Linked DNA regions of Homo sapiens. The protein of the gene in region 4 interacts with the protein of the main gene of each other region in a pairwise test. Each region holds a gene or a part of one and is shown on either strand. Other genes may lie near its edges. The genes, in order: SAPCD2, YAE1, SSC5D and EXOC7.

Region 1 (5,950 bases), on a different chromosome or scaffold from region 4:
GAACTCCTGACCTCAACTGATCCCCCCCCGCCCCAGCTTCCCAAAGTGCTGGGATTACAGGTGTGAGCCACCGTGCCCGGCAAGGGATCTTTTTTTTTTTTGAGACAAAGTTTTGCTGTGTTGCCCAGCCTGGAGTGCAGTGGCGCAATCTGGGCTCAGTGGAACCTCTGCCTCCCAGGCTCAAGCAATCCTCCTGCCTCAGGCTCCTGAGTAGCCGGGACCACAGGTGCATGCCACTGCACCAGGCTAATTTTTGTGTTTCTAATAGAAATGGGGTATTGCCGGCCGGGCACAGTGGCTCACGCCTGTAATTCCAGCACTTTGGGAGGCTGAGGTGGGTGGATCACCTGAGGTCAGGAGTTCAGGACCAGCCTGGTCAACATGGTGAAACCTCATCTCTACTAAAAAATACAAAAAGTAGCTGGGCATGGTAGTGGGTGTCTGTAATCCCAGCTACTCGGGAGGCTGAGACCGGAGAATCACTTGAACCTGGGAGGCGGAGGTTGCAGTGAGCCAAGATCATACCATTGCACTCCAGCCTGGGCAACAGGAACAAAACAACGTCTCAAGAAAAAAAGGAAGAAATGGGGTTTTGCCATGTTGCCCAGGCTGGTCTCAAACTCCTGAGCTCAAGCGATCCACCCGCCTTGGTCCCCAAAAGTGCTGGGATTACAGGCGTGAGCCACTGTGCCCGGCCATGCGGGACTAACTTTCTATCAGAGTCACCATCCTGGGAAAAGTTAGGTTTCCGTCATTCACACCCACATCTCCTGCTGCCTTGCAGGACCCCGTGCAGATGGGAGAGGCGTAGTCAGGACCAGAACCCCCCCGCCCACTCCTCCCTTACCCAGCTGCCTTGGAGACCCAGGGTGTGCCTGCCATGTTCTGGGCACTGGGTGTGCAGAAGAGAGCTGGATAAGGCCTCTGGCCCCAGAGAGCTCACGGACCGATGAGGGGGCAGGGTGTGTGTTTGAGCAAACATGCGGGCTTGGCGGCACAGCCCTCCCCAAGCCAGTGTGAGGAGCTGGAAAGGGGAGAGGGACCAAACTCCAGCCTGGCACAGAGGCTACACGTGGGCCATGCCAGGCTGGTGCCCGAGACCTCGAGGGTGGGCTGAGATGTGGAGGCCGCTGCACCTCAGCAGAGCCTGGCCAGGCAGGTCTGGAGGTGAGCCAGGCCCATGCCTCTCCATAACAGGTGCAGTGGCGTGCAGGGCCCTGGAGGCGGACTCAGGGGATGCCCGGCGGGCTCCCCGTGCCCGAGGGGAACGTCGGAGGCACACCATCGCCAGCGGCGTGGACTGCGGCCTGGTGAGCAGGGACTGGGGCTCTGTGGGGCTCTCCATCTTGCCTGGAGGCTGGAGGCCGGGATGGGAGCAGGGGGGCCTTGAGCCTGGGGGAGTCCATGGCGGAAGTACAGTCAGCTCTGGACATCTCTCTCCCTACCTGGGCTTGACTCCCCTGGAGGGATGGCCCAGGGTCAGGCAGAGGGAGGTCAAGAGGTCGTTTAGGGCAGCTATGGTGGCTGCCCAGCCCGCCTCACGAGGTTGCTGCTGCAAGCCAGTCTGGCTTCCCAGCTGTGTGCTCACCACAGGCAGACTTCGGGAGGGTGGGCTCAGCTGAAGGGTCCGTCACCCCTCCCCCAGGGAAGCCTGAGTGGAGGGGCTAAGAAAGGCCAAGACCCCTCAGCAGGAGGAACGGGGCTCCTGCTCCAAATGGGCCTATGGGGCTCACACATGCAGGTGTCAGCAGAAGCGTGCGTCCGTGGGTGTTTGCAAACGTGTACACGTGCTGCTGCATTTGTGTCTGTGGCTCTGGTGCCCACCCACAGGTGAGCTCATGCATGTGTGGACGTGTGCGTGCTCACTGGGGCCAGGCATTCCATGTAAATGCACGTATTGCAGCTGAAGCAGATGAAGGAGCTGGAGCAGGAGAAGGAGGTGCTGCTGCAGGGTTTGGAGATGATGGCGCGGGGCCGCGACTGGTACCAGCAGCAGCTGCAACGAGTGCAGGAGCGCCAGCGCCGCCTGGGCCAGAGCAGAGCCAGCGCCGTGAGTGCCACAGCCCTGTCCCCAGATCCCCACACATGGGGACCCCAGCTCACCCCAGGCACCCTTGGGCATTGTGGCTGCCCCTATTCCCGGACACAGTGGCTGTCGATTCCACCCAGGATGCTGAGACATCCCTTTCTCCGCCTGTGGCTGCCCCACTCCTAGGGCCTAAGGTGTCTTGGGCAGACCTCCCACCTCAGCAATGCCCCTGGGACCCTCTAGGCTCTCTGCAGCATCAGGAGGCAGGAGAGCCACCTGTGGGAACCCCTATCAAGGCACCTTGCTGGCCCCGGCTGGACCTCCTCTCTGACCGCTTGTCCTCTGCTTTCTTCCCAGGACTTTGGGGCTGCAGGGAGCCCCCGCCCACTGGGGCGGCTACTGCCCAAGGTACAAGAGGTGGCCCGGTGCCTGGGGGAGCTGCTGGCTGCAGCCTGTGCCAGCCGGGTGAGTGTACCCCAAACCCCCACACCCACGCTGGGGCCCAGGCCAGTTTAGTGCTTCCCCGCCCTCGTCCAGGCCTGCCTAATCCTGCCCTCCCGCAGGCCCTGCCCCCGTCCTCCTCCGGGCCCCCCTGCCCTGCCCTGACGTCCACCTCACCCCCGGTCTGGCAGCAGCAGACCATCCTCATGCTGAAGGAGCAGAACCGACTCCTCACCCAGGTAGGGCAGGCGCGGGAGGGGTGCAGGGGTGGGGGTGAGGCCCCGCAGGCCTTGACCAACTGTGCACCTGCCCAGGAGGTGACCGAGAAGAGTGAGCGCATCACGCAGCTGGAGCAGGAGAAGTCGGCGCTCATTAAGCAGCTGTTTGAGGCCCGCGCCCTGAGCCAGCAGGACGGGGGACCTCTGGATTCCACCTTCATCTAGTCCTTGTGGGCCGCGTGGGCCCCCAGGGCCAGCCTGGCACTCAGCCCTTCGAGGGTGGGCGCCCCATCGCACCCACCCTCTCTGGCTGGAGACCCCCGGCAGGCCCAGGCACAGTCCCGGAGTGGGCGCCTTCCTGCCGCCCTTGCCAGATGGGCTCCCCAGGCCTGCCCCCGGCTGGTCCCCGCACCGAGCGCTTGACTCCGTTTTGGCTCCTGGTGCTGACATGGGCTGGGGCTCTCTTGAGTCCGCATAGTCCGCAGCTACTACTGCCGCTGTCAGTGGACAGTGGGGTACCCCTCCATGAGTTAGCGTCCCCCCGTTTCCAGCGGTGCCGCCCTGGGTCCCATCTTCAGGGAAAGGCACTGCCCACGCCAGGCTGCACTTCCAACAACGGGCAGCAGAGGGCGCGGGGCGGCTCCGACGCGGGTCCAAGGGCAGCTTCCCGCTCAACCAGGGCACCAGGACGAGGTGGCTGTAGCTCGGACGGACGGAAGTAGATGGAGGGGGTGGGGACGGCCTGTAAGCGGGGGGTGCCTGCCTGGCTGGGGAGCCCCAGGGATAGCGGTCGGACTTCAGGTTCTGGCCAAGGCTGAGGGACCCTGGCTGCAGCGGATCGGCACGCCGGGTGGGCGAGAGCTTGGCCTGCATGTGCCTCCCACAGACCCTGGGGTGATGGCCTTCCCCCTCTTGGCCGGGACGTTGCCCCACGTTGAGTCCCACACAACATCCTGTGAGCCTGGCTCCCCAGGAGGGCCCCCAGACAGCTCCCAGGCACGTCATAGGCAAAGCCTGTTCCCCCGACTCAGGATTTCCAAGGCCTGGGGTCCTGCTCACCCCCCTTTGCTCTCACGCCCAGCCTGTCCCCAGGTTTCAGCTGGGAGAGGCCACCTCCCTCAGCCAAGGAAAACGAGAACCCCCAGGGTACAGGAGGAGGCTGGGGCAGGTCCCCTTGGGTGTCACTCCCTCAGCCCCTGCCCAGGCCCACTCCCGCTGGTGCTGGAGTACGCACTGGTGGGGGGGCCCTGCTCAGCCCAACCTGGAGGGTCCCAGTGTCACCAGAACCAGGGGCACGGCAACAGCATCGATGGGTTCTGCAGCCCAGGGCCCCCGATGCGGGGTCAGTGCGTGGGGGGCGCAGGGCCCCCGATGCCGATGCGGGGTCAGTGTGTGTGGGGCGCAGGGCCTCCGATGCGGGGTCAGTGCGTGGGGGGCGCAGGGCCCCCTCGTGTCCAGGGCACTTTGGTACACTGTCCCACAAGGCACCTGTCTCAGAGGAGGGGCCCTGGCAGGCAGCGTGGCAACTCCCTTCCGGAGCCCAGCTCCATGCTAACCTGCCCACAGCAACCCCACAGAGCCACATTCCCTGCTGCACCTGGTCTGCAGGGGTGTCCCAGGACAGGCCCAAGTCAGCCCAGCATGCAGCTGCCCTCCTACCCTGAAGATGGGAGTGGGCTTTCCAGGGGACATAAGGATGTCAGGCCTGGACCTCCTGGGCAGGAAAGGGTGCAGGTCCTGAGGGCCTGTGCCCCACAGCCCCAGCACCAGGTGGACTGCAGCGCAGTGGGTGGGCCAGTGGCAGCCAGGGAGAAGCCCCCCGTCAGCAGGCTGGGGTCTGCCCACCAGGGCCTCCCCACGTCTGCCTTTGAGGGTGCCTGCCATGCCCTGGGGGATCCTGGCATCTTTACTGGACTGGAAGCAGGAGACAGAACAGTGTCTGTCCCGGGGTGACTTCATCAGGAGACCGCCCACATAGAGCTGGACCCCGCAGCTGAAGCGGAAATGTGAGACAGGCTGGCACCTCCGGAAAAACTGCCTTTCAGCCTTGGTGTTCCGTGCAAGGTGAAAAGAAATAGGTCCTCCCAGTTTACAGCTTGAAATCAGGCTAGTGAGTGGCCCTGGAGACCACGAGGGGAGAATTTAAAGGCCCCGGCTGGCAGGGTCTAGGTGGCTGGCAGAGGCACATGCAGACCCTGCCTGGAGCCTGCCCTAGGACGCTGGGCGGGTCAGTCTCCGTGCAGGATGTGAGCAGCGTCCCTGGGCTCTATCCGCGAGGTGCCAGTAGCGTGTGCAGGTACATACACGTGCGTGCACACTGTGATGACACCCGGAAATGTCTCAGGATGTTGAAATGTGTCCTTGGGGGCAGAAGTGTCCCCAGTTGAGAATCTGCCCCAGAGGAACACACCCACACCAGGCCTCAGGATTTTGTGTTGATCAAGTTCCAAGGAAAAGGAACATCTCAGCCGGGCGTGGTGGTTCACGCCTGGAATCCCAGCACTTGAGGCCAGGAGTTCCAGAGCAGCCTGGGCAACGCAGTGAGAGACCCCATCTCTACAAAAAAAAAAAAGAAAGAAAGAAAATGAGAGATCCAGGTTTAAAAATTCATAAACACCACAAGGAAACAATACACTATGAGACCCAGCAGAAGCAACAGATTGACTCTAGACCCAGATACTAGAATTATCAGAGAGAATATAAAGTAACAGTGTTTTATATATCTAAAGAAATAAAAGAGATTTCTGGAAACATGAACAAGGAGTGGTATTTATAGTTCCTTACTCCATGAAAAGCATGATCTCTTAATGCTATAAAGAAGACTAGGCCGGGCGCAGTGGCTCATGCTTGTGGTCCCAGCACTTTGGGAGGCCGAGGTGGGTGGATCACCCGAGGCCAGGAGTTTGAGACCAGCCTGGCCAACATGGTAAAACCCCGTCTCTACTAAAAATACAAAAATTAGCCAGGCGTGGTGTCGGGCGCCTGTAGTCCCAGCTACTCGGGAGGCTGAGGCAGGAGAATTGCTTGAACCCAGGAGGCAGAGATTGCAGTGAGCTGAGATGGCACCACTGCACTCCAGCCTGGGCTACAGAATGAGACTCCGTCTCAAAAAAATAATATTAATAAAATAAACATGTATCGGTCGGGTGCAGTGGCTCACACCAGTAATCCCAGCCTTTTGTGAGGCAGAGGCGGGAGGGTTGCTTCAGCCCAGGAGTTTGAGGTCAGCCTGGGCAATACGGCAAAACCCTGACTCTACCAA
Region 2 (7,848 bases), on a different chromosome or scaffold from region 4:
AGACTTATGTCCAGAATATACAAAGAACCTTTAAACACAATAAGAAAACAACCTAATTTTTTATAGACAAAGATTTCATTTAAAAAATATACAAATTGGCCAGGCGCGGTGGCTCATGCCTGTAATCCCAGCACGTTGAGAGGCCGAGGCGGGTGGATCATCTGAGGTCAGGAGTTCAAGACCAGCCTGGCCAATATGGTGAAACCTCATCTCTGCTAAAAATACAAAAATTAGCCGGGCATGGTAGCAGGCGCCTGTAATCTCAGCTTCTCGGGAGGCTGAGGCAGGAGAATCGCTTGAACCTGAAAAGCAGGGGTTGCAGTGAGCCGAGATTACGCCACTGCACTCCAGACTGGGAAAGAGAGCAAGACTCCATCTCCAAAAAAAAAGAAATACATATACAAATAACAAATAAGCACATGAAAATGTGTTCAATATCATAAGTCATCTGGAAAATGCAAATTAAAGCCACAGTAATAGATACTACTACACACTCATTAGAATAGCTAATGTTAAAAATACTGTCAATTCCAAGTGAGGCAGAGGATGTGGATCAACTGACACTCAAACATTGATGGTGGAAGTGTAAAGTGGTACTATCTCTTTGGAAACACAGCTTACAGTTTCTTATTGTATTAGTCCATTCTCATGCTGCCACAGAGGACCGCTCCAGACTGGCTAATTTATAAAGGAAAAAAAGTTTAATTGACTCACAGTTCCGCAGGGCTGGGGAGGCCTCAGGAAACTTAAAATCATGGTGGAAGGGGAAGCAAACACATCCCTCTTCACATGACGTCAGGAAGGAGAAGTGCCAAGCAAGAGGGGGAAAAGGCCCTTATAAAACCATCAGATCTCATGAGAACTCACTCACCATGACAAGAACAGCAGCATGAGGGTAACTGCCCCTATGATCCAATTAACTCCCACCAGGTCCCTCTCATGACACGTGGGGATTGTGAACTACAATTCAAGATGAGATGAGATTTCGGCGGGGACACAGCCAAACCATACCACTTGTTTTTTTGTTTTTTTTTCTTTTGAGACAGAGTCTCGCTCTGTCGCCCAGGCTAGAGTGCACTGGTGCGATCTCAGCTCACTGCAACCTCCACCTCCCAGGTTCAAGCGATTCTCCTGACTCAGCCTCCTGAGTAGCTGGGATTACAGGCGTGTGCCACCACGCTCAGCTAATTTTTGTATTTTTAGTAGAGATGGGGTTTCACCATGTTGGTCAGGCTGGTCTCAAACTCCTGATCTCATGATCTGCCCGCCTCGGCCTCCCAAAGTGCTGGGATTACAGGTGTGAGCCACCGTGCCCGGCCCATACCACTTATAATGTTAAATGTATACTTACTATATGACCAGCAATTCCACTTCTAGATATTTACCCAAGAGAAATGAAAACGTGTACACAAAATGGCATGTACAAAAATGTCCACAGCAGCTTTATTCATAATAGCCAAAAACTGGAAACAATCCAAATGTCCAAAAATGACTACATGAACAAATCATGGTATAGCCCTATAATGAAAATAGTACTTAGCAATAAAATAGATCAATCTACTGGTACATGCAACCAAATAAATGAATCTCAAAAACATGTTGAGTCAAAGAAGCCAAATATATTAAAGGACATATACAATTCCATTTCTATGAAATTCTAAACTGGCAAAACTAATCTAGTGATAAAAATTGGATCAAGGGTTGCCAGGGATGAGAGACTGACCACAAAGGAGCACGAGGAAATTCTCTGGGGTGATGGAAATTTTCTATATCTTCATAGGTGGTGTTTACACTCAAAATGTATGCATGTTACTGCATGATTTTAAAAATGTGTTCCTGACATTTACAAATATAGTACTAAATAAACACTAAATACTAAACAAACATGTCATTACTATATTTAATAATATTTGTTGGTATTTCAAGTGGAATATTTATCTCATTTACATTTCTAGATGATTATTACTAGAAGAGGCTATTGGTGTGTTTATTTTTCTTATATTCACAGACTTTATCAAATTTCTTTATTCTGTTATTTTTTAAGCAAAGTCTTTTGGGTTTTCTAGGTATATAATCATATAATGACCAAAAGGAATATCTTAGGCTGGGCATGGTGGTTCATGCCTATAATCACAGCACTTTGAAAGGCTGAGGCAGAAGGATCACTTAAGGCCAGGAGTTCAAAACCAGCCTGGGCAACAAAGCGAGACCCCCGTCTCTACTAAAAATAATTTAAAAATTAGCTGGGCATTGTGGTGCGTGCCTGTAGTCCCAACTACCTGGGAAACTGAGGCAGGAGGATTGCTTGAACCCAGGTGTTTGAGGTTGCAGTGAGCTATGATTGCACCACTGCATTCCAGCTTTGGTGGCAGAACAAGATCCCGTCTCATTTTTTAAAAAGGAATATCTTCATCTTTTATTATCCAACATTTATACATGTTATTTTGTTTACTTCTCTTATTGCAAGTGCTAGTGTGCTAGTCTCTAAAAGAATATTAAGTAATAATAGTGACTACCAGATGCCCTCTCCTTTCTATATGTTAAAGGAAATATCTGAACATCTAAGTGTTTAAAATACTACTCGTTGGAATTTTTGTAAAGTCTTTACCAATTTGTAGTTTCTATTTCTACTTTATTTTGTTAGAAATGATTTTTAAATTTTTTCAAATAACTTTTTAGCATTTATTAATATAACATGTTTTTTCCCTTTTATATTGTTGATGCAGGCTAGGCACAGTGGCTCATGCCTGTAATCCCAGCACTTTGGGAGGCTGACACAGGAGGATAGCTTGAGCTCAGAAGTTGGAGACCAGCCTAGGCAACATAGTGAGACTCCTGTCTCTACAAAAAAATCAAAAAATTAGCCAGGTGCAGTGGTACATGCCTGTAGTCCTAGCTACTCAAGAGGTTGAGGCAGGAGGATAGCTCAAGCCCAGGAGATCAAGGATGCAGTGAGTTGTGATCTCACCACTGCACTCCAGCCTGGGTGACAGAGCAAGACGCTGTTTTAAAAAAAAAAAAAATAGTCAATGCAATGAAATATTATTGATGTCCTAATATTGCAAAAGTTTGCTTTCCTGGTACAAAACCTCTTAAATTATTCTTTTGATAAAGTACTACCAGGTTGGTGCAAAAGTAAACCCCAATTAATTTTGCACCAACCTACTAGATTCTCTTTTGGATATATATTCACAAGCTAACTTGAACTTTGGGGTTTTTCTGGTACTATCTTTATGAAGTTACAGTAAGGCTGGCTTCATGAAATGATTTAAGGAGTTTCTTCTTTTTCTCTCCCCTAAAATGGTAAAAATAGTTTAAGACTCCATCATTCCTTAAAGATTGCAAAGGACTTAATGTGAAACTCCCAAGTCTCCATGACATTTTTAATAGTAGATATTTAATGTCCAATTTTTCTATGGTAATTAGTCTCTTCATGACCCTACTTCTTGGGTCAATTTTCTTAGAAAGTCATTCATATCTCTCAGGTTTTCGAATGTGTTGCTTTTGAGTTTTAGTTGGTAATTAATATTTTAATCTCCTTCTGCATCAGTGGTTATCTCATTTCTCATTCTTGTATAATTTTGTTCTCTTTAAAAATCTGGGTCATGACAGGATTATCTATCTTATTGGTGTTTTCAAATAATACAAAAAAGAATTGGACTTACTTATTCAAGTTTTGAGGTTTTCTATTTTATTGTTATCTTTATTGCTTACTACCATTTTGTTCCTAATAAAGATATATACATATATCTTAATATATTTACATTAATAAAATATACATATTTGTAGTTTATATATTTTTTATTTGTGGGATGCCAAATTCTCTCTGGAGATTTAAAATTGTAACATGAACCAACCACCCACTCCCACACACTTATGGTTCTTACTGTGCTTATTTAAAAATTTTTTTCATAGCATTTATTTATGATCTTCTAACAAACCTTATGCTACTTATATATTGCTTATTGTTTATCCTGTCAATTTTACATGACTATAAAGTCGACAAGGGTTGGGAACTTCCGTCTGTTCATTGATGTATCCCAAAGCCTGGAATGGTACCTGACACAAGGTAGGTGTTCAATAAATTGTTAGATAAATAAATCATAATCACATGACTCATTTTACCCAGGCAAAGGGCAAAACAGGAATACTACAGGTATTCATTCATTCACCAAAATAGAGTTCAGCATTTACTATGTGTCAGAACTGTCCTGGTGTTGACACAAGTCCCCACCCTTACCAAACCAACTGTTTACTTTAGGGCATATGAACAGGAATGGGAGGCAGAAGGATATCGTGAATCAATGAAAAAATATATTGGCTTTACAAATGTACTCTATATTTCTTACTAATCTCAAATTGGCTACAGTACCTCGCTTTTCGATCCTATTTTCCTTTACTCCACAATCCTAACAGTTTAAAATGTCGGCTTGTCAAATCCTTTAAATGCAGAGGAGATTCCAAAAGAGACAAAGTATTTGGGTGGTAATCGCCCATCGACTTTACTACCTTTAATAGTTTACCAAAGCGCGCGAATGTAAAACCCAGACCATGGTAAGACTACGGTGGAAATGGAAGGTGTCTCACTGAGGGTCCCGGTTGCCTTCTGCAAAGGTGAAGGTCGTGCCGGCCACGCGAGGAAATCTGCCTCGCTCACAACTCACAGGCACACATCAACACTGCCAACCGAGGGAGCCCAAAATCACCGCAAGCGAAAGGCTCCGGCGGCGGCCACGGGCCACAGCCCGCCTCCGCGCACACGCAGCCCCTCCCGAGCCTCCACTCGCCGTCTTCGCCCCGCCTTCGGACCGGAAGGAGTTGTTGGCGCTTCCGGTGGCCTGCGACCCCGTAATTGCCTCGGTGATGTCGTGGGTTCAAGCAGCCTCCTTGATCCAGGGCCCTGGAGACAAAGGGGACGTGTTTGACGAAGAAGCAGACGAGTCGCTCCTGGCGCAGCGGGAATGGCAGAGTAACATGCAAAGACGAGTCAAAGTAAACGTGGTGTGGACGGCGCGGGGTGCTGGGTTGTGGGAAGAGGCGCGGAGTTGTGAAGAAGCTGGGTCCAGAGTGGCCCCAGCCTGGCCCGGCGCTGCTCTCTTTATCCCTAGGGACCCGGTCCGACCCGCGTCTTGCTAGGATTTCTCGATGGTTACTTGAAAGCGTGTAAAACAACAAGACGCATTCTTTGAGCGCCTACGGGATGCGTTAGAAACTGAGGACCGACCAAAATTAACTATGTGTAGACTTTGAACAGTTTGCAGTTTGTTGAGGATCACAGGGAAAGGAGCTGGAGAGAAACATACACTATACTTATTATGGCTGTCAAAGGACGTGTACGCAGTTTATATGGGTGGCTTGAATGGGTAGGGAGCCTAAAGTTAAGGAGTAGTGTTAATCAAGACATATTGAAAAGATGAACTAAAGCATGCTGTCAGAGGACAATAAGGGAAAGCTAATGTGGAATACTGGTGTCTAGGTAAGGGAATATTAAAGTTGGTTTCTTTTTTATTTGTTAGATGTAACTTTTTCATCTCTAATTTGTCTCACTATTCATTGAAACTAAGCTTAATTTCTGTGTGCAGCCTACAGTATTTCTGGGTGAGGACCAAATAGTGAGGTCCACATCCACTTAATATATTTGCCAACCATTAAATTGCCGCTAAAGCTGCAGTTGGGAATCTGCCCTGTTTAATATTTCAGTAGAGTGGTATTTGCTTAGCCCAAAAACCATGTTGTCAATTACAAAAATGCTTTATGTGAGACTGGGGCCACACTAATAAGTATTGAGCATCTTTTAAATGCTGTGGCACCGTGAGAGATGCAGAACGAAATCACTACCCACAGAGCTTTTGCAGGTTAGTTGAATTTAGGTATTATGCAAAATTTCTGAAACCAGACTTCTCATCATCCTTTTTTTTTTAAACAATTTCCTCTCTCTGCTTTGCCCTGTCTCCTCACCCACCCACACCATTCCAATCAGTTGGCAAGAGCCCAGATGTGTAATTTTCCATATATCCTTTTTGTGAAGACATTGCTAATGCTGGGTTTTGTTTTTTGTTTTTTGGTTTTTTTAATCTTTTGAAGTGATTAGAAAAGTTTATTTTGTGCTTAGGATATTTTTCTAAGGCATCACAGGTTACACATCCAAACTCTTCAATGGTATAATATTTTATATTCTAAAGGAGAGACCTTTAAAGAAAACTTGTACATTATGCTACTATAAGTCTAGTGGATTCTCCTATCCGCAGAGCCTAGAAAGAAGGGGACATTACAGAAATTGTCTACTACATAATGGTCAGTTGATTCATTGTATTTATGGTTTTCCCCCTTCTTGTAAGGTGAAAACTATGTATGCCCTTTAAGGAGTATGCTCTTTAAGGAGTAAAAATACACTAAGTGTACCATCCTGTTGATTTCTACCTGTAAGATACCACACAATATTAGCAGTTAGGAAAGAACAGGAAAATATGAAGTTTGTATCTTAAAATATAAAAATGTGTGGCGAAACCCCATCTCTACTAAAAATACAAAAATTAGCCGGGTATAGTGGCGTGCACCTATAGTCCCAGCTACTTGGGAGGCTGAGGCAGAAGAATCACTTGAATCCGGGAGGCAGAGGTTGCAGTGAGCTGAGGTCATGCCACTGCACTCCAGCCTGGGTGACAGAGCGCGACTCCATCTCAAAAAATAATGATAATAATAAATATATATATATATAGTTAATGATTTTGAAACATCAAGCATTACAGACTGTAAAATTAATTAAGAACTTTCTGTATATGATGCCAAAGATACATTTAAAACATATACAAGAAGATGCTTTTTCCTGAGTAGAATGCAAACTTTGTTTTATATTAACCTTCTGTGAATTTTCAAAATGTAAAATACCAGGACTTTTCCACATCAGACAAAAATCAGGAATGTTCACCTTCACATCCAAAAAGAAAAATTTTAAAAGACAATTTCAAGTAGTTCAGCAAGAATGATTTAAAATCTGAAATGAATGGCCAAAATTTTAAATTATCAACAGACAGTTCAATTTGATGGATCTCTCAGTAAACTTCAGTTTGAAACAACAACAAAAAATGCTGTTTACTAAATCATAAAAGATAATTCCAGGATATTATCCAATTTGAAAAATAAAAAATGTAACCCGTAATAAATAAGAAAAATACAAGAGAAAATCAACCTTTATTGGAATCGAGAGAATACCATGGACTTTAAAACTTCCTAAATCAGTAGCTTATCCTATATTACCATGTGTAGAAAACTGCAACTAATTAATGTAAGGTAGTTTTTATTAGTTGCATAACTTAAAAATATGAGGAAATTTTGGAATATATCTCTAAAACCACGGAATTGTCACTGAAATATATATTTCTTGAGACAGTGGGCAAAGTTCCCATTTATGGGAAATACTTTCCTTTTTTCACACACATGAAACTGAGAAAAATTATATCAAATGAGAAATATTTTTCTCTAAAATAATCTTAAGTACCCCAATAATGCAATACTGGGGAAATGTAAATTTTCAAAACTCAGATTTGAAACAGGTTATTATTAAACAAATATACATAAATCTTATTGTTTGGCAAGATTTTTCAAAAATTAGAGAACTAGTTAAACCACCATACTGTCCTTAAATCATATTTCAAACTTACATACCTAGTGCTTTTATGTTCTGAATGTAGAGTCTTCAATTTAATGACAATCTAGACTGAATGCTGTAATATACAAGCAAGTCACAGTTCACTTCAAACCAAAAGAAATAATCAGTCTTCTGTTTTTATCAAAATCATGATATTAAGATAACTATACAATTTATCTGTGACCAGTGATGGACCCAGA
Region 3 (7,913 bases), on a different chromosome or scaffold from region 4:
CTAGGGGTGCAGGGAGCGGCCAGCGCTGGGGCCAGCGGGACAGGGCAGAGCCTCATCGTTCTGCAGAATGTGGGGGGTGGGGAGGCAGGGCCACAGGAAATGAGTGGGGTGCAGCTCCAGCCCCTCCGACCAGCCCCAGAAGTAACCACGGTCCAGCTCCAGCCAGCGCAGGAGGTGACCACAGTCCAGCTCCAGCCAGCACAGGAAGTAACCACGGTCCAGCTCCAGCCAGCACAGGAGGTGACCACGGTCCAGCTCCAGCCCGTGGCCGGCCAGCTCTCCAATTCCAGTGGGGGAGCTGTGGCTACTGAGGCACCCAACCTGCTGGTTGTTCAGAGCGGGGCAGCTGAGGAGTTGCTCACTGGCCCGGGCCCCGGGGAGGCGGGGGATGGCGAGGCCAGCACTGGTGTGGTCCAGGATGTCCTCTTTGAGACACTCCAGACGGACGAGGGCTTGCAGAGCGTGCTGGTGCTGAGCGGGGCCGATGGCGAACAGACTCGACTCTGCGTACAGGAGGTAGAAACACTTCCTCCTGGGCTGACGGAGCCGCCTGCCACCGGCCCACCCGGACAGAAACTCCTCATCATCCGCAGCGCCCCAGCCACTGAGCTGCTGGACAGCAGCAACACTGGAGGAGGCACCGCCACGCTGCAGCTCCTGGCCCCACCGCCGTCAGGCCCAGCCTCGGGCCCCGCGGGGCTCCCCGGGGCTCCAGCCTCCCAGATGGTGCAAGTGGTCCCCGCAGGAGCTGGGCCTGGTGTTATGACCCCTCAGGGCCTGCCCTCCATCCAGATTGTCCAGACTCTACCCGCAGTCCAGCTGGTGCACACGTTTTGAGGAGAGGCAGTGATTCCCCTCCCGCCCCGCACAGAGACCCCGACTCACTGCCAGCCGGGGCGGGGCAGGGTGCCGCAGGCTGGGCTTGCTAATAAAGACCCGAGTCTCCCCGCCTGTGTTTTGTTTTCCTGGGGGGAGGGAAGGGGGCAAAGTCATGGTCCTAGCCCCCGCCTGGGAGCGTGGAGTCTTAAGTCTTGCGTCCTGGGTCGCAGATGGCTTGTTCTGCATCCTGGGGCCAGCCACTACGTAGGGCTCAGTTCCCCTGTCCTGAAACCAAAAAAGGCCGCAGGGGTCATTATAGTGGGGAGGTGGTGACATCAGACTCCAGGGAGTGCTACTTGTTCACTGTAGGTCGCCCCGCTGCCCCCCTCGTGTGAGAAGTAGGGGGATCCTTATGCGGAAGGGTTCTGCGACCCCGGGCGCCCCGTGGGTGGAGTGGGGTCCCTGGGGATGGGGGAGTCGGGCGCCAGGATGCTGAGCGTGGCCGGCTCCTCCCGCGAAGGCCCCGGCACGGATGAGAATCCACGCGCTGGCGTCGCCGCCCGGCGCTCAGGTTGCTCAGCAACGAGGGAACGTGGGGCGGGAGCTCGCGCTGGTCCCCAGCCCGCCGCCCGTCTCCTGCCGGCTTCCGCTCCCGTTCTTCCCCAGGTCCCCTTTCCCCGTTGCTCCTTCTCTAGGGATAGGAGAGGTCGCTTCCCGGCCCTCCGCAGGGTCACAGCTCGGTTCCTCCCAGCCCGCCCTCCGGGGAGCTTAGCAACGGTTGCTACGGCCCGGAGCGGGCGCCGCCCCGCCCCACCGCGCGCGGTCTGACGTCACTTCCGCCCGCGACCCCCTTCCAGACCCGCTCCCGAAACCTTGTCGAAGGACCAAAGGCGACCGGTGCAGGTGCTTGCTGGTCCTTGTTCTTGTGGCGCGGGACGGGGACGACTGTGGGGGAGGGGGCGCTGGGGACCGGGGTGGAGCGAGCGTGGTCCGTTCTCTGGCATGTGGGGAGGGTGTTCGTGGACCCCAGTGCCTGGGAGGGAGCCCCGTGCTGCAGTGTTGGCGTCCGCAGCGCGTTTGGGAGTGTAGATCGCTGAATAATACGGGGGAGGGGGGATCCCGGGAGACTTTAGCAAGGTCGCTGAGTATTGTGGGGGGCGCCTGTCCTGCCGAGATCCTCGCTTGGGGGCCCCGAGGGTTCTCAGTGTCCTGATCTGGGAAGTGCCGTTGCTGCTCCCTACCCCTCGGGGGAGCTTTGGGGACAGAGGTGCCCCCCTGACGCTGACCTACTTATGTTCTCACCAGGTGCACGACGCCAGCTCCCTTCTGGGGGGCCGGGGCCTGGGGGTTGCCATGGCCCCCAGCCACCTGTCAGTGCGGGAGATGAGGGAAGATGAGAAGCCCCTGGTGCTGGAGATGCTGAAGGTGAGAGGCAGGGGCCCCAGGGGGCCTGGGAGTGGCTGCAGTGGGGGAATTGCAAGTGGATTCAGCCACCCCCTCCCACCCACCTGAGCCAGCCTGGACCCCTGGAGCGGGATCTTTTCCTCCTGAGCCTCAGCCGCCCTGCTGCTGAAAACCACAGCAGGTGTGGCAGGTGGGGGCTCACCCCCCCAGCCCTACTGGGACCCCAGCACCAACGCCCTCCCTGGTCTCCCATCTCCAGTCGGCTGTGCACGCCAGCACAACAGCCAGCTCTGTGCCTCGGACCCCAACTCTTCAAAGCACAGCCCAGCACCCCAACCTAGCCCAGCAGCCTCCCTCCAGCCTCCACTCCAGCCTGAGGCAACCTCCCTGTCCTTACTTCCCTGGGGCCTCACTGCGGCATTGCTACTGAATTGAGTGCCCCCACAGCTCCTAATTCACTCATCCATCCATCATTCGCTCTCGTTCATTCATTCACTCCATACCCAGTGTGCCACACTGAACATCGGACTGTGCTGCCTTCCCTTCCCATTTGGGAGCTCTCACCCCGCCCCGGGCAGGGTCTACCTCCTCTCTTTGTCCAGGAGGCCCTAGCGTTTCGGATGGCTGAGCCACCCCTCCTGCCCACAGGCCGGCGTGAAGGACACGGAAAACCGCGTGGCCCTCCATGCCTTGACACGGCCGCCGGCCCTGCTCCTCCTGGCGGCGGCCAGCAGCGGCCTGCGCTTTGTCCTGGCTTCCTTCGCCCTGGCCCTCCTCCTGCCGGTGTTCCTGGCTGTGGCCGCCGTGAAGCTGGGCCTGCGGGCCCGATGGGGCTCGCTGCCTCCGCCGGGTGGCCTGGGGGGCCCCTGGGTGGCCGTGCGGGGCTCCGGTGACGTGTGTGGGGTCCTGGCTCTGGCCCCTGGCACAAATGCAGGGGACGGGGCCCGGGTCACCCGCCTGTCTGTCTCTCGCTGGCACCGCCGCCGGGGCGTGGGCAGGAGGCTGCTGGCCTTCGCGGAGGCCCGGGCTCGGGCCTGGGCTGGGGGCATGGGGGAGCCCCGGGCCCGGCTCGTGGTCCCCGTGGCTGTGGCCGCCTGGGGGGTGGGAGGGATGCTGGAGGGCTGTGGCTACCAGGCCGAGGGGGGCTGGGGCTGCCTGGGCTACACGCTGGTGAGGGAATTCAGCAAAGACCTGTGAAGCTACAGACTGACAGCCAGGGCAGGGGAGGAGGGAGGGGCGCCAGCACCTGATGATCGCCTACTGTCTGCGGGTTCTTTTACCTGCTCTCCCTCAGTGAGTCCTCAACCACCCTGGGCCCAGAAACAGAGGCCTGCCGAGGGGAGGAGCCTGGCCTCTGTCCACCCGTCAGCAGTGTGAAGTCTGTTGTGTTTGAGCTTCTCAGAGTGGAATGACTCCTTTTCCTTCCTGGCCCTCGGGGGCCTCTCGAGGTCAGCCTCTCCAACCCCTACCTCAGCTCCTGTCTGCACTGAGAAACCTCCCCGGGTGATGTCTGCAAAGTCTGTGCTGTCCGTGCCCCAGGCTGGGAGAGCTATCTGGGGAGGGGGAGAGGAGGCCGAGCAGAATACACCCCAGAGTTAGGGTTTGCGACTCCGCCTCCCTGGGACCTGGATTGGGTCAGATGCCTGTCCTTGGAGGGGACAAGGTTGACTGCTTAGGAGGCGCGACGCACAGGGCTGCCAGGCCTGGCCCCTCTCTGGGAAGGTTGAGAGCTGAGACGGGCAGCCCTGTCCCTTCCTCCAGATCCGTCTGGTTTTTTACACCGTTTGTTAATAAAGCCTGAAACCGCTGTGTGCCTGTCTCTTCTCTGATGGCTTTCCCAGTCTGTCTCCGGACACCCCCGCCCATTTCTGTCTGGCTTCTCCTTTCCCCAGTTAACATTAATTGTTGGGGGACGGTGCTGGACTGGGAGAAGGGGAGGCTGTGAGCTCAGGGGCAGCCCGAGGCCCTGCCAGCCCTTCTGAGTCACGCTCCCCATTACCGAATTTTTTCCGCCTCACAGCTGCCTGGTGTGCAGGCAGTGGGGTGTGTGTGTGTGTGTGTGAGTGTGTGGAAGAGTGTGTGGAGCCCCTCCCCTTCCCAAGCCTTGACCCTTGTGCTGCTTATCCCCCGACCCCAGCTCCCTCTGGGACAGTGAAGTTCAACCTCTCCTCTCTCAGCTGGGGACTGGGGGCTTCACACTCAGATCCACCAGTGAGTGGGAGGACTGGAGGGCCGGGTCTTTCAGTCTCTTTTCCTAACCCAGGAAGTCCCTCCTGGTGTCTGGCTGCAAATCTTCTTGCTGCTGCACCAAGAACCCCAGGTCTGCCCAGCCCCCAACCCTAGCAGTGGTCTCACTGGATTTCCCTGACCAGACAAGAGGGGAGACAGCAGGTGGGCGCCCCTCCCGCTCATGCTGCGCCCCCCCCGCACACGTCCCCCAACCCCTGTCCTGTGCCTTCCTGCAGCCGGCCACCCCCTAAGCATCTCTGGGCACAGCACTTTGCTGGCTGGAGCCTGCCTGGCCGTCGTCTCCATCTCCCGTGTGGGTGTCTGCAGTTGGACACCCTCCCTCCCGCCCGCCACCCCCCTCCCCCCCATGCCTCAGCAGACGGCCAGCCCCCTCCCGCCCCCCCTCCCCCCCACCGTCCCCTGCCGCCTCCCTGCAGCCTCTTTCTTCCTCCTGGCAAAGCGTCCAGCCCTGCCTGCTCCTCCTCGGGCCTGGGCGCCTCCAGCAGGCACTTCCCTCCCTCCCTCTCTCCCCAGCTGCCTCCTCCTCTTCTCTCCCCGCTCTCCTTCCCCTTTCACCCCATCCCCTGCCCTGGCTGCAACCATGAGGGTCTTGGCCTGCCTCCTTGGTGAGTGATCCATTCTCCTTGGGGACTCGGGGGGCCTAGGCCCCCACCTCTGACCCCTTAGCTTGTCCAGTTTAGGGACTCAAACTTCCGGGACTGGTCGCTGGTGCTCCTGCATACCCTGACATCCCTTCTGAGGATCCCTGCTCAATCTGCCCAGCCTTCTGCCAGCCCAGAAGCCCAAGGGACCTGCCCCCTGCCCGCCCCCCAGCCCTGACCCTGCGGGGGATCTCCCAGACATCTGACCTTTAGCCAAGCCCATGTGTGTGTGTGTGTGTGTGTGTGTGTGTGTGTGTGTGTGTGTTGGGGTATTCAAGATGAGGGGCCTGCGCTGGAGAAAGGGCCACCCCCGGCCTGCCCCTCACACTGCCCCACCCTCCGCCCTCCCTTCCAGCGGCCCTGGTGGGGATCCAGGCTGTTGGTAAGTGCCCAGACTCCTCCCATCTGCCCGCCCCCCCCCCCAGGCCTCCCCCTTCTGCCCATCCAGGCCTGGCCTCACCCCCACTGGGTCCCCGGCCCATCCGAATTCCACTGTGACCTTGGCCCCAGCTCCGCAAGGGAATCCCCCAGGTGTCTGGCCGCATCTCTCTGAGCACCCAGGAGTCTGGGCCCAGGGGCCAGTGAGCAGGGCCACTGGCCTACAGACAGTACCTGCAGGACAGCCACCTGCCCCTACAGTTGCCCTGGCCTTGGGGCCCCCAGGATGCCCCTCCCCAGTCACAGCCATTCCTCCAACCCTCAGAGCGCCTGCGCCTGGCCGATGGCCCCCATGGGTGCGCTGGCCGCCTGGAGGTCTGGCATGGCGGGCGCTGGGGCACCGTGTGTGATGACGGCTGGGACCTGCGCGATGCCGCCGTGGCCTGCCGGCAGCTGGGCTGCGGAGGGGCACTGGCCGCCCCGGGAGGCGCCTTCTTCGGGGAGGGGGCAGGGCCTGTGTGGCTCAGCGAGCTGGCTTGCCGGGGCAACGAGGGGCAGCTGGGCCTCTGCCACCACCGGGGCTGGAAGGCCCACATCTGCTCCCACGAGGAGGACGCGGGCGTCGTCTGCGCAGGTGAGGACACCCTGGCTGCTCCTTCAGGGGGAGCTCCTTTGGAGATGACCCAGGAACCCCAAGTCCTTAGCCCCAGCAAGTCTGAGTGTTCAGCAGTTCAGAGACACCCAACCTCCCATCCCCTCCAAAGCCAGGTGGCTAACTCCCTCTTCCAGGGACCCAAATGGCCTGGATTCCCCTCCTCTCCTCATAGCTTCTGTCCCTGCCCCCCCGCCGCAGGTCAGCGTGTGGCTAACTCCAGGGACGACTCAACATCTCCCCTGGATGGGGCTCCCTGGCCAGGGCTGTTGCTGGAGCTGAGCCCCAGCACGGAGGAGCCCCTGGTGACACATGGTGAGCCCAGGGGACTGCCCTGCCAACCCCCACCCAGCGTGCCCTCCTGCCCCCCCCGAGGGGAGAGGGACTGCCCTGCCAACCCCCACCCAGCGTGCCCTCCTGCCCCCACCGAGGGGAGAGGGACCTCTGCAGTATGAACTCCCAGGGGACACACAGCCCGCCCCCTGCCCCGCCCCGTCTCCTTCATAGCCTAGGGAGTCCTCCATCACTTCAGACCCTCAGAGACGGAGGCCTGGGCCCCCAGGTGGGAGGAAGGATGAGGGGCTCAGCTCCTGACCCCTGGCTGTCTCCACTCCCAGCCCCCCGCCCAGCTGGGAACCCCCAGAACGCCTCCCGGAAGAAGAGCCCCCGGCCCAAGCAGGCCAAGTCCACCCGGGCCCCTCTGCTGACGACAGGAGCCCCCCGCCAAGGTAAGCTCCCTGCAGGCTCCCCCGACCCCAAGGCTGGTTGCTGTGAGGCCCAGGGCCCAGAAAAACTGAGGACCTGCGGGCGCCCTCTCCTTAGCCGGGGCCCTGGAGGGATCCCAGTGTTCCCCGCGTCCCTCCCCCGGGGATTTAGACGGCCAGGCCTGGTCTCCCCTCTTCTTCCTGCCCTGTCAGGAGGCCCAGGTGTCCTGGCCCGCTCAGGTCGTGGACTCACCTCTTCACGGGCTGCCGGCGGACAGATCTCAGGCCACCGCTCCCTCAGGCCTGTTTCCCCAGGTGGAAATCGAGGAAGGGGTGTTTGAATCATTTCTCACTGGCCACACCGTCCCCTCCCTGCTCACCCCACAGAGCGGCTGCGCCTGGTCTCTGGCCCCCACAGGTGCGCCGGACGCCTGGAGGTCTGGCACGGCGGGCGCTGGGGCACCGTATGTGACGATGGCTGGGACCTGCGCGACGCTGCTGTAGCCTGCCGGGAACTGGGCTGTGGGGGGGCGCTGGCTGCCCCCGGCGGTGCCAGATTCGGGCCTGGTGCAGGGCCCGTGTGGATGGACGATGTGGGGTGTGGAGGAGGAGAACAGGCCCTCCGAGACTGCCCCCGAAGCCCCTGGGGCCGGAGCAACTGTGACCACAGCGAGGATGCGGGGCTGGTCTGCACCGGTACGTCGGGCTGGGGCCTGGCCCCCTCCTGTCTTCCTCAGACCCCAGCTCCCTCTTGCCCCTCCAGGAAGCTGCAGCGGGCCTGCTCCCAGCTCTGCCTCCTGCCCGCCTGCTCTCTGCATGCCCAGCGCCCACTCACCACGCTCTCCAGCCCCTCCTTCCACAGCTCCTGCCGTTCTCCTTGCCAGGAATGGGAGGAGCAGGCTTGAGGCTTGGGCTAGTGCTCAGCCCTGTCCCGGGGCCTAGGCCAGTGACCGTTTGTTTAAGCCTCAGTTTTCCTGAAGGAGCGATGGAGCTAAGAATGCCTGCCTCAGGCTTGAGCCAAGTCCTGGAACGCAAGAAGCCCTGCCTGCCCTCTGCCACCGGGCT
Region 4 (7,782 bases):
GAGGCAGGCGGATCACCTGAGGTCGGGAGTTCGAGACCAGCCTGATCAACATGGAAAAACCCCATCTCTACTAAAAATACAAAATTAGCCGGGTGTGGTGGCTCACGCCTGTAATCCCAGCTACTCAGTAGGCTGAGGCAGGAGAATCGCTTGAACCCGGGAGGCAGAGGTTGTGATGAGCCAAGATCTCGTCATTGCACTCCAGCCTGGGCAACAACAGTGAAACTCCATCTAAAAAAAAAAAAAATTATCTAGCCAGGCATGGGGGTGAGCACCTGTAATCCCAGCTACAGGAGGCTGAGGTGGGAAGATCACTTGAGCCCAGGAGATGAGACCAGCCTGGGCAGCATAGAGAGATTTTATCCTTAAGAGACTAATAATAATTAATTAAAAATAAATTTTAAGGCCAGGCACAGTGGCTCACACCTGTAATCCCAGCACTTTGGGAGGCCGAGGCGGGTGGACCACCTGAGGTCAGGAGTTTGTGACCAGCCTAGCCAACCTGGTGAAGCCCCATCTCCTCTACTAAAAATACAAAAAGTTAGCTGGGCGTGGTGACGGGTGCCTGTAATCCCAGCTACTCGGGAGGCTGAGGCAGGAGAATCACTTGAACCCGGGAGGCAGAGGTTGCAGTAAGCCGAGATCGTGCCATTATACTCCAGCCTGGGTGACAAAGTGAGACTCCGTCTCAAAAAGAAAAAATTTTTAAATAAATAAAATAAAATAATAAATTATAAAGATACATACGTTTTGATTTAGCAATTCAACTCTTGGAATGTGTCCGGCATATAGATGTCTATACAAAGGTGGTCACGTACAGGACACGTATATATGTATATTTTCTACCCCAAGGGGGCAGAATTTGCAATAGCAAGAAACCTGGAAACAACTTAAGTGTCCATTAATAGATAACTGGTCCAATCTATTATATCCATTCAGTGAAATACTATACAAAGAATGGAGCTGCCCGCCTTGGCCTCCCAAAGTGCTGGGATTACAAGTGTGAGCCACCATGCCTGGACAGCATTTTATTTTATTATTAATTTATTTAGATGGAGTCTCGCCCTGTCACCCAGGCTGGAGTGCAGCGGCGCAATCTCGGCTCACTGCAACCTCCACCTCCCGGGTTCAAGCGATTCTCCTGTCCAGGCTTCTCAAAGTGCTGGGATTACAAACATGAGCCACTGTGCCCGGCCAGAAGCAGATTTTTTTTTTTTTTTTTTTTGAGACAGAGTCTTGCTCTGTCACCCAGGCTGGAGTACAGTGGCATAATCTCAGCTCACTGCAACCTCTGCCTTCCTCGTTCAAGCAATTCTCTGCCTCAGCCTCCCAAGTAGCTGGGATTACAGGTACCCACCATGCCTGGCTAATTTTTGTATTTTTAGTAGAGACAGGGTTTCACCATATTGGCCAGGCTGGTCTTGAACTTCTGACCTCGTGATCCACCCGCCTTGGCCTCCCAAAGTGTTGGGATTACAGGCGTGAGCCAACACGCCTGACTCAGAAGCATTTTAATAGAAAGGTAATTTAAACTATTTTTAGAAACTAGAAAAAAAGAATCCTCCATCTGTTCTACTTACCCTTTAGTATTTTGTGGTGTTTTCCTGTAGTCATTTTTTGCAATGCATCTGTTATATGTTAAATGGTTGTAATCTCGATATATACTATTATGACCTGCTTTTCTGGTTATGTCATAGCATATACATTTGCAATATGGTTACAGGGCCAGGAAACATTAATTTGGAGGAATTATATACATCTGATTCCTCAGACAGAGCATGAAGTCTAAAATTAGGAAGTTATGAAACTGAAGAACACATTTGTGGGGTGGGGAGGCCCTTCCTTCCTTCTGTCCTTTCCTACCTTCCTTCCTTCTTACCTCCTTTCCTCCCTCTGGAAAGATCATCTCTGCAAGTGGGAAGTGGGGGCCACGACTATGGCTGGCACCTTGGTGTTCTGCACAAGTTTGTGGATGTGAGACCTAAGATTTCTGAGACTGCAGCTAAAGCACCACTTGTTCCTTTCGCTAAAGTAGCTCGTGTTGAGTATAGTTAGGAAATTATAGTTTTAGCTGAATCAATACCTATTTGTTGTCAACCCAAGGTTGATAATAGGTTGAGAATAATTTAAATTCATTTTTTCATTCTGTCTACTCTTAGTAAATATAGTTGTCTTGAATACAACATGCTTTTCACAATGAATTTTTTTGAAAATCAGATTGGCAGCTTTGCATAACAAACACCACTCCTGAGCTGCCCAGCATGGGGAGAAAGAAGAGACCGCCTGAGCCTCACCCTTTGCTGGCCAGCTGTGTTGACTTACTACAGCTGACTTCTCTGAGCCGGAGCTTCCTCGTCTGCACAAGGGAGACGACAGCTGGGCCTGACTCCCAGGTTTATGATAAGGATTAGAGGAGCATTAGCAAGGGCAATGTTTGTAGTAGAGACAGGCAAACAGAAGACTCTCAGTACATGGTATTGTACTAATGGTATCTAACCCCATTAGACTCAGACACTGAAGGAAATGCAGTAAAGCACACACAGCTGATTGACAAAAATGCAATGACATTGTACAGATTTGAAAATATTAGCTTCCTCACGCACATAAAGGATTCCCAAGACCTATGGAGCAAAAAAAAAACAAAATTTTTTTTTTGCTTGAGATGGAGTCTTGCTCTGTTGCCCAGGCTGGAGTGCAATGGCACCATCTCGGCTCACCGCAACCTTTGCCTCCTGGGTTCAAGCAATTCTGCCTCAGCCTCCCGAGTAGCTGGGACTACAGGTGCACACCACCACACCCAGCTAATTTTTGTATTTTTAGTAGAGATGGGGTTTCACTATGTTGGCCAGGCTGGTCTCGAACTCCTGACCTCGTGATCCACCCGCCTCGGCCTCCCAAAGTGCTGGGATTACAGGCATGAGCCACCACACCTGGCCGGAGCAAAATATTTATTATCAGTATTTTTATTAAGCATCTACTATGGGCCAGGAACTGTTTAGAGACTCAGGCCAAGCACGGTGGCTCACACCTGTAATCCCAGCACTTTGGGAGGCCGAGGCGGGCGGATCAACTGAGGTTGGGAGTTCAAGACTAGCCTGACCAACATGGAGAAACCCCATCTCTACTAAAAATACAAAATTAGCCAGGGTGGTGGCCCATGCCTGTAATCCCAGCTACTCGAGAGGCTGAGGCAGGAGAATCGCTTGAACCCGGGAGGCAGAAGTTGCAGTGAGGCGAGATCACGCCATTGCACTCGAGCCTGGGCAACACAGCAAGACTCCGTCTCAAGAAAAAAAAAAGAGAGAGAGAGAGAGACTCAGGTTAAATGCTGGACCAGGCCCTCAAAGGTAGTCCACCTGAGCCCAAAACACCCTCTCTACAGCGGCTAACTAGCCCCGCTACTCTATTCTGTGACATCTAACAGTTTAAACTTTCTCCTACTTAGCCCTTTGGACTACACAAGGACCATGTCAGCGAAATCATCCTGGGTATTTCCTGACACAGGAATCAGCCTTTTATCTCCCCCACCTACAACAGGATTGAAATTGTCCTCTTGCCTGAGGGAAGGCTGCCCATCCCTCTCCAGGCTCTGTGCACCCACTTCCTCCTCCTCCTCCTCTTCGGGTGACTATGGGTGGAGTGAGCGCTTGGGAACCCTAGAGCTTGGGTTCTTCCTTCTCTCCTTCTCTCCTTAGGCCGGGAGCAGGGGCTCACGCCTGTAATCTCAGGACTTTGGAAGGCCAAGGCGGGTGGATCACTTGAGGTCAGGAGTTCGAGACTAGCCTGGGCAACATGGCGAAACCCTGTCTCTACTAATAATACAAAAAAATTAGCCGGGCGTGTTGGCAGCCGCCTGTAATCCCAGCTACTCGGGACGCTGAGGCACGAGAATCACTTGAACCCGGGAGGCAGAGACTGCAATGAGCCAAGATCGTGCCACTTGCACTCCAGCCTGGGCGACAGAGTGAGACTCTCTCTCAAAAGAAAAGAAAGGAAAAAAAAAGCTTGGTGTCCCCCCTGCCCGCCCCAAACCTTCTCATCTACCAGCACATGCCTCCTTGTCTATCTTCCGGGTGTCTGGACACTGAGGCCACAGAAGGACTGAACCAAGCTGGTCGGCCTTGTCCTTTCTCAAGGCTGGGGGCCAGAGGCAGGGTGGGCAGGGACGGGTTAGAGGAAGGAGTAACTCGAGGTTTTGCAGGAGCTGGGTCTGCAACCACAACATCCAGCCCCGCAGGGAAGTTGATCCAGGGGCGCCCCCCACCCCGTCCCCTGGAGCTGCAGTTGGACGCTGGGTCTGGGCCTGGAGCTCCGGAGCAGCCCCGCCAGCCCACAGGATACGTTTTTGCGTAATGCAGGGTGGAAGGCGGAAACAAGTACACAAGCCCCTGGTTCATTACATGGACACACGTTAGGCATCTACTGTGTCACCTGCTCCGTGCGGGGCTTTGTGGGAAACGCAATTGGCCTTGGTGCCTGCCCATAGAATGCGACCTGGGGAAAGGAATTCGTCGCCTTCCCCAGCAGTCTTTATCAAAAGGGTCGGTCTTTCAACGAAAACAGCAAGTGAGCTCTAAGTGTCCTGCCAGCCGCGGGACATAAGGCCGATCGAAAACCTCTGCTGAGGCAAGGAACCCGCGTCGAGGTCCCTTGCAGCATCCGAATACACTTCTCTTCCCAGCCACGCTCAAAATGGCCGTCGGTCCGTTCTTGGGCTCCGCGCAGGCGCACTTCAGCCTGCGATTCCCAACATGGCTCCGCCCAGGCGTCCCGGGGCGGGACCAAGAGCGGAAGTGGGTGTGACGGGGACGGGGGCCCGGTGGGCCCGCGGAGGAAAGATACTGGGGAGTGGGAGCCGCGGGGTTCAGAGCGATGATTCCCCCACAGGAGGCATCCGCTCGACGGCGGGAGATTGAGGACAAGCTGAAGCAGGTGGGCGTGGGCCTGGGGAGGCTGGGGAGGAGGTGAGGGAAAGGGGCCAACAGCGGGGCCTGATTGTCTACTCATGGAGGAGGCAGGGGTGGGAGGGAGCGCACCCAGCGAGGAGATGGGGTTGGGGGCTAGGCCGTGGGGTTGGGACGCAGTGGTCTCCTTTAGCTTCTGGTTTCTGGTGATGTCCTCCCCTTGCCTGCCCCCAGGAGGAGGAGACTCTGTCCTTCATCCGAGACAGCCTGGAGAAGAGCGACCAGCTCACTAAGAACATGGTGAGTCTCCCCGCAGCTGGGGGAGAGGGCAGGCCTCCGGACCCTGGGGGAGAGCCTTGCGACCTGGCGGTTCCGGTTCCTGCGGCCTGGAGTTCTGGAATGGGCAGCGACGGAGGCAGTGTGTGGGTTTATCTAGCAACAGTTTGGCATCTCTCCTGCCTAGCCCCCTCCCCATGTTCCGTACCCTCACTGAGGAGGCTGCACTTCCCACTGGCCTGGACTTGCTGCTTTCTGTCTAAGCTCGCCATTCTTCCTTCTCTCCTTCTGCAAACACTCAGTGAGTCTGACCAGTTGGGCTAGGTACTGGGCATATGTCATTGTCAGTGGACTCTCTGCCCAGGAGGTTGGCACTTTGAGATTCCTGAGGGCAGAGAAGACTCAGCCTTCACTCCAGAGGACTTTAGGGAAAGAAAGAGCTCTAAAGTCAGGCAGATCTGGGATCTAGTCCTTGCCCTTCTGCTTAAATGTGCGGCTCCTGATAGGTAACTGGTGTCAGCGAATTCATCTGCTAAAACAGAGACTGTGCCAGCCTCCCAGTGTGTCTGTGAAGGTCATATGCGCTAATGCATGCGACTGCATCTTGCACAGTGCCTGGTATACAATAGGTGCTCAATAAGTGAGTTTCCTTCTTTATTCCTAGGGGAGACTGGAAAAGCACAAAGTGAGTAAATACAAACTTGTATTTGCATTTAGTCACACAATAATAAAGTCCTAGTCCTTTTCTAAAAATTTTAATTTTTAAATTTTTTTTTTTAGAGGCAGAGTCTGGCTGTGTTGTGCAGGCTAGAGTGCAGTGGCATGACTGTAGCTCACTGCAGTCTCTAACTCCTGGGCTCAGGCAGTCCTCCTGCCTCGGCCTCCTAGCAGCTGGGACTGTAGGCACACACCACCACGCCTTGCTAATTGTGTGTGTGTGTGTGTGTGTGTGTGTGTGTGTGTGTGTCTGTGTGTGTAGACAGGGTCTCACTGTGTTGTCCAGGCTTGTCTTGAACTCCTAGTCTCAAGCTAACCTCCCGCCTCAGCCTCCCAAATTCTGGGTATTACAGGCATGAACCATCACGCCCAGCCTCTAGTCCTTATTCAATGAGTTTCATCCTTAGAGAGGGTTTTGAAGATACAGCAATGCATTTGAGGCTACTCTGTATGAAACTACTTCCAGTCCGGTTTAGGAATGCTTCAGAGAGAACAGAAGTTGAGATTTGGCTTCAAAGGGTGGAAGGGAAGCCATCTTGGGCTGATTATTTTAAGAAGAATTAATTTGATGCTTGGTTTGCCTTCAAATAAAATTTCAACCAATTTGTCTTAGACCACCTACTATATGCCAGGCACATGATAGGTGCTGAAGATACAGTGGGGAACAGGTACACCCTGTTCCTTCGCTTGTGGAGTTTATTGTCTAGAAAACCAGAGAAAAGGCAGGAAATGCCGAAGGTGGGTGTGTAGAAGCAGTGCTGGGACCACTGTGAGTCCCAAGATCAAGAGGCTTCCCTCCCGCAGGTGTCTATCTTATCATCCTTTGAGAGCCGCCTTATGAAGCTGGAGAACTCCATCATCCCTGTGCACAAGCAGACGGAGAATCTGCAGCGGCTGCAGGAGAATGTTGAGAAGACGCTGTCCTGCCTGGACCATGTCATCAGCTACTACCATGTGGCCAGTGACACTGAGAAGATCATCAGAGAGGGGTGAGTGAGTGAGGCCCAGAGGGTCAATTCCTAATGCCTCCTGGGCCAACAGGAGGGTTGGTCTGTAATCCCAACAATTTGGGAGGCTGAGGTGGGAGGATCGCTTGAGACTAGGAGTTCAAGACCAGTCTGGACAACACAGTGAGACGCCTTTTAAGCCCTAGGCCTTAAAAGGCAGTGGGGGGATAGAATATATTTGAGCCTGGAGTCCCCTGTATTAATTTTCTTTTTCCCAAATACTGTGTCCTTAGTCCTTCTTCATCCCCCATGCCCCAGCCTGACCTGGCTCTTTTCTTTCCCAGCCCCACAGGTAGGCTGGAAGAGTACCTGGGAAGCATGGCCAAGATTCAGAAGGCAGTGGAGTATTTCCAGGACAACAGCCCAGACAGCCCGGAACTCAACAAAGTGGTAAGGGGTCCGCAGAATAACGTGAGAAGCTTGGGGATATCAGTCTCTGCCCTGGTCTCATGAGGGACATGGAGCCAGCTTGAGGATGTATGCAGTAGAATACACAGAAGGATATAGCACAGTACATCCTATAGGCATTAGGATCTCTGCTTCAAGAATTGCACATTTTTTATTATTAAAAATTCTTTATTATAAAACTTGTTAATGTATTATAAAAATTAAATTATAAATTACATATAAAATATAAACTTAACATTTGATTTGTTGTTGTTGTTGTTGTTGTTGTTGTTTTTTCCTGAGACAGAGTCTTGCTCTGTCACCCAAGCTGGAGTACAGTGCTCAGCTCACTGCAACCTCTGCCTCCCAGGTCCATGTGATTCTCCCACCTCAGCCTCCCAAGTAGCTGGGATTACAGGCACTCGCCACCGCACCTGGCTAATTTTTGTATTTTTAGTAGAGACGGGGTTTCGCCATGTTGGCCAGACTGG

Evidence for each region.
Region 1: the proteins of EXOC7 (region 4) and SAPCD2 interact in binary tests that used the Homo sapiens proteins (3 or more experiments, as listed by UniProt).
Region 2: the proteins of EXOC7 (region 4) and YAE1 interact in binary tests that used the Homo sapiens proteins (3 or more experiments, as listed by UniProt).
Region 3: the proteins of EXOC7 (region 4) and SSC5D interact in binary tests that used the Homo sapiens proteins (3 or more experiments, as listed by UniProt).

The regions. Positions count from the first base shown.
Region 1 is NC_000009.12:137,061,622-137,067,571, reverse strand, and holds the end of SAPCD2 (suppressor APC domain-containing protein 2), read left to right. Parts: intron 1-1,197; coding exon 1,198-1,310; intron 1,311-1,903; coding exon 1,904-2,050; intron 2,051-2,386; coding exon 2,387-2,494; intron 2,495-2,592; coding exon 2,593-2,709; intron 2,710-2,784; coding exon 2,785-2,913; 3' UTR 2,914-5,445; downstream 5,446-5,950. UniProt on the Homo sapiens protein: Plays a role in planar mitotic spindle orientation in retinal progenitor cells (RPCs) and promotes the production of symmetric terminal divisions. Negatively regulates the mitotic apical cortex localization of GPSM2.
Region 2 is NC_000007.14:39,561,556-39,569,403, forward strand, and holds the start of YAE1 (protein YAE1 homolog), read left to right. Parts: upstream 1-4,848; 5' UTR 4,849-4,863; coding exon 4,864-4,992; intron 4,993-7,848. UniProt on the Homo sapiens protein: The complex LTO1:YAE1 functions as a target specific adapter that probably recruits apo-ABCE1 to the cytosolic iron-sulfur protein assembly (CIA) complex machinery. May be required for biogenesis of the large ribosomal subunit and initiation of translation.
Region 3 is NC_000019.10:55,483,537-55,491,449, forward strand, and holds the start of SSC5D (soluble scavenger receptor cysteine-rich domain-containing protein SSC5D isoform 1 precursor), read left to right. Parts: upstream 1-4,899; 5' UTR 4,900-5,053; coding exon 5,054-5,078; intron 5,079-5,469; coding exon 5,470-5,496; intron 5,497-5,817; coding exon 5,818-6,126; intron 6,127-6,345; coding exon 6,346-6,459; intron 6,460-6,761; coding exon 6,762-6,872; intron 6,873-7,235; coding exon 7,236-7,544; intron 7,545-7,913. Other genes in the region: ZNF628 (zinc finger protein 628), read left to right, coding at 1-837; NAT14 (probable N-acetyltransferase 14), read left to right, coding at 2,173-2,244, 2,872-3,420.
Region 4 is NC_000017.11:76,100,783-76,108,564, reverse strand, and holds the start of EXOC7 (exocyst complex component 7), read left to right. Parts: upstream 1-4,777; 5' UTR 4,778-4,872; coding exon 4,873-4,932; intron 4,933-4,993; exon of another isoform or gene 4,994-5,138; coding exon 5,139-5,204; intron 5,205-6,701; coding exon 6,702-6,886; intron 6,887-7,188; coding exon 7,189-7,294; coding exon of another isoform or gene 7,295-7,357; exon of another isoform or gene 7,358-7,554; intron 7,555-7,782. UniProt on the Homo sapiens protein: Component of the exocyst complex involved in the docking of exocytic vesicles with fusion sites on the plasma membrane.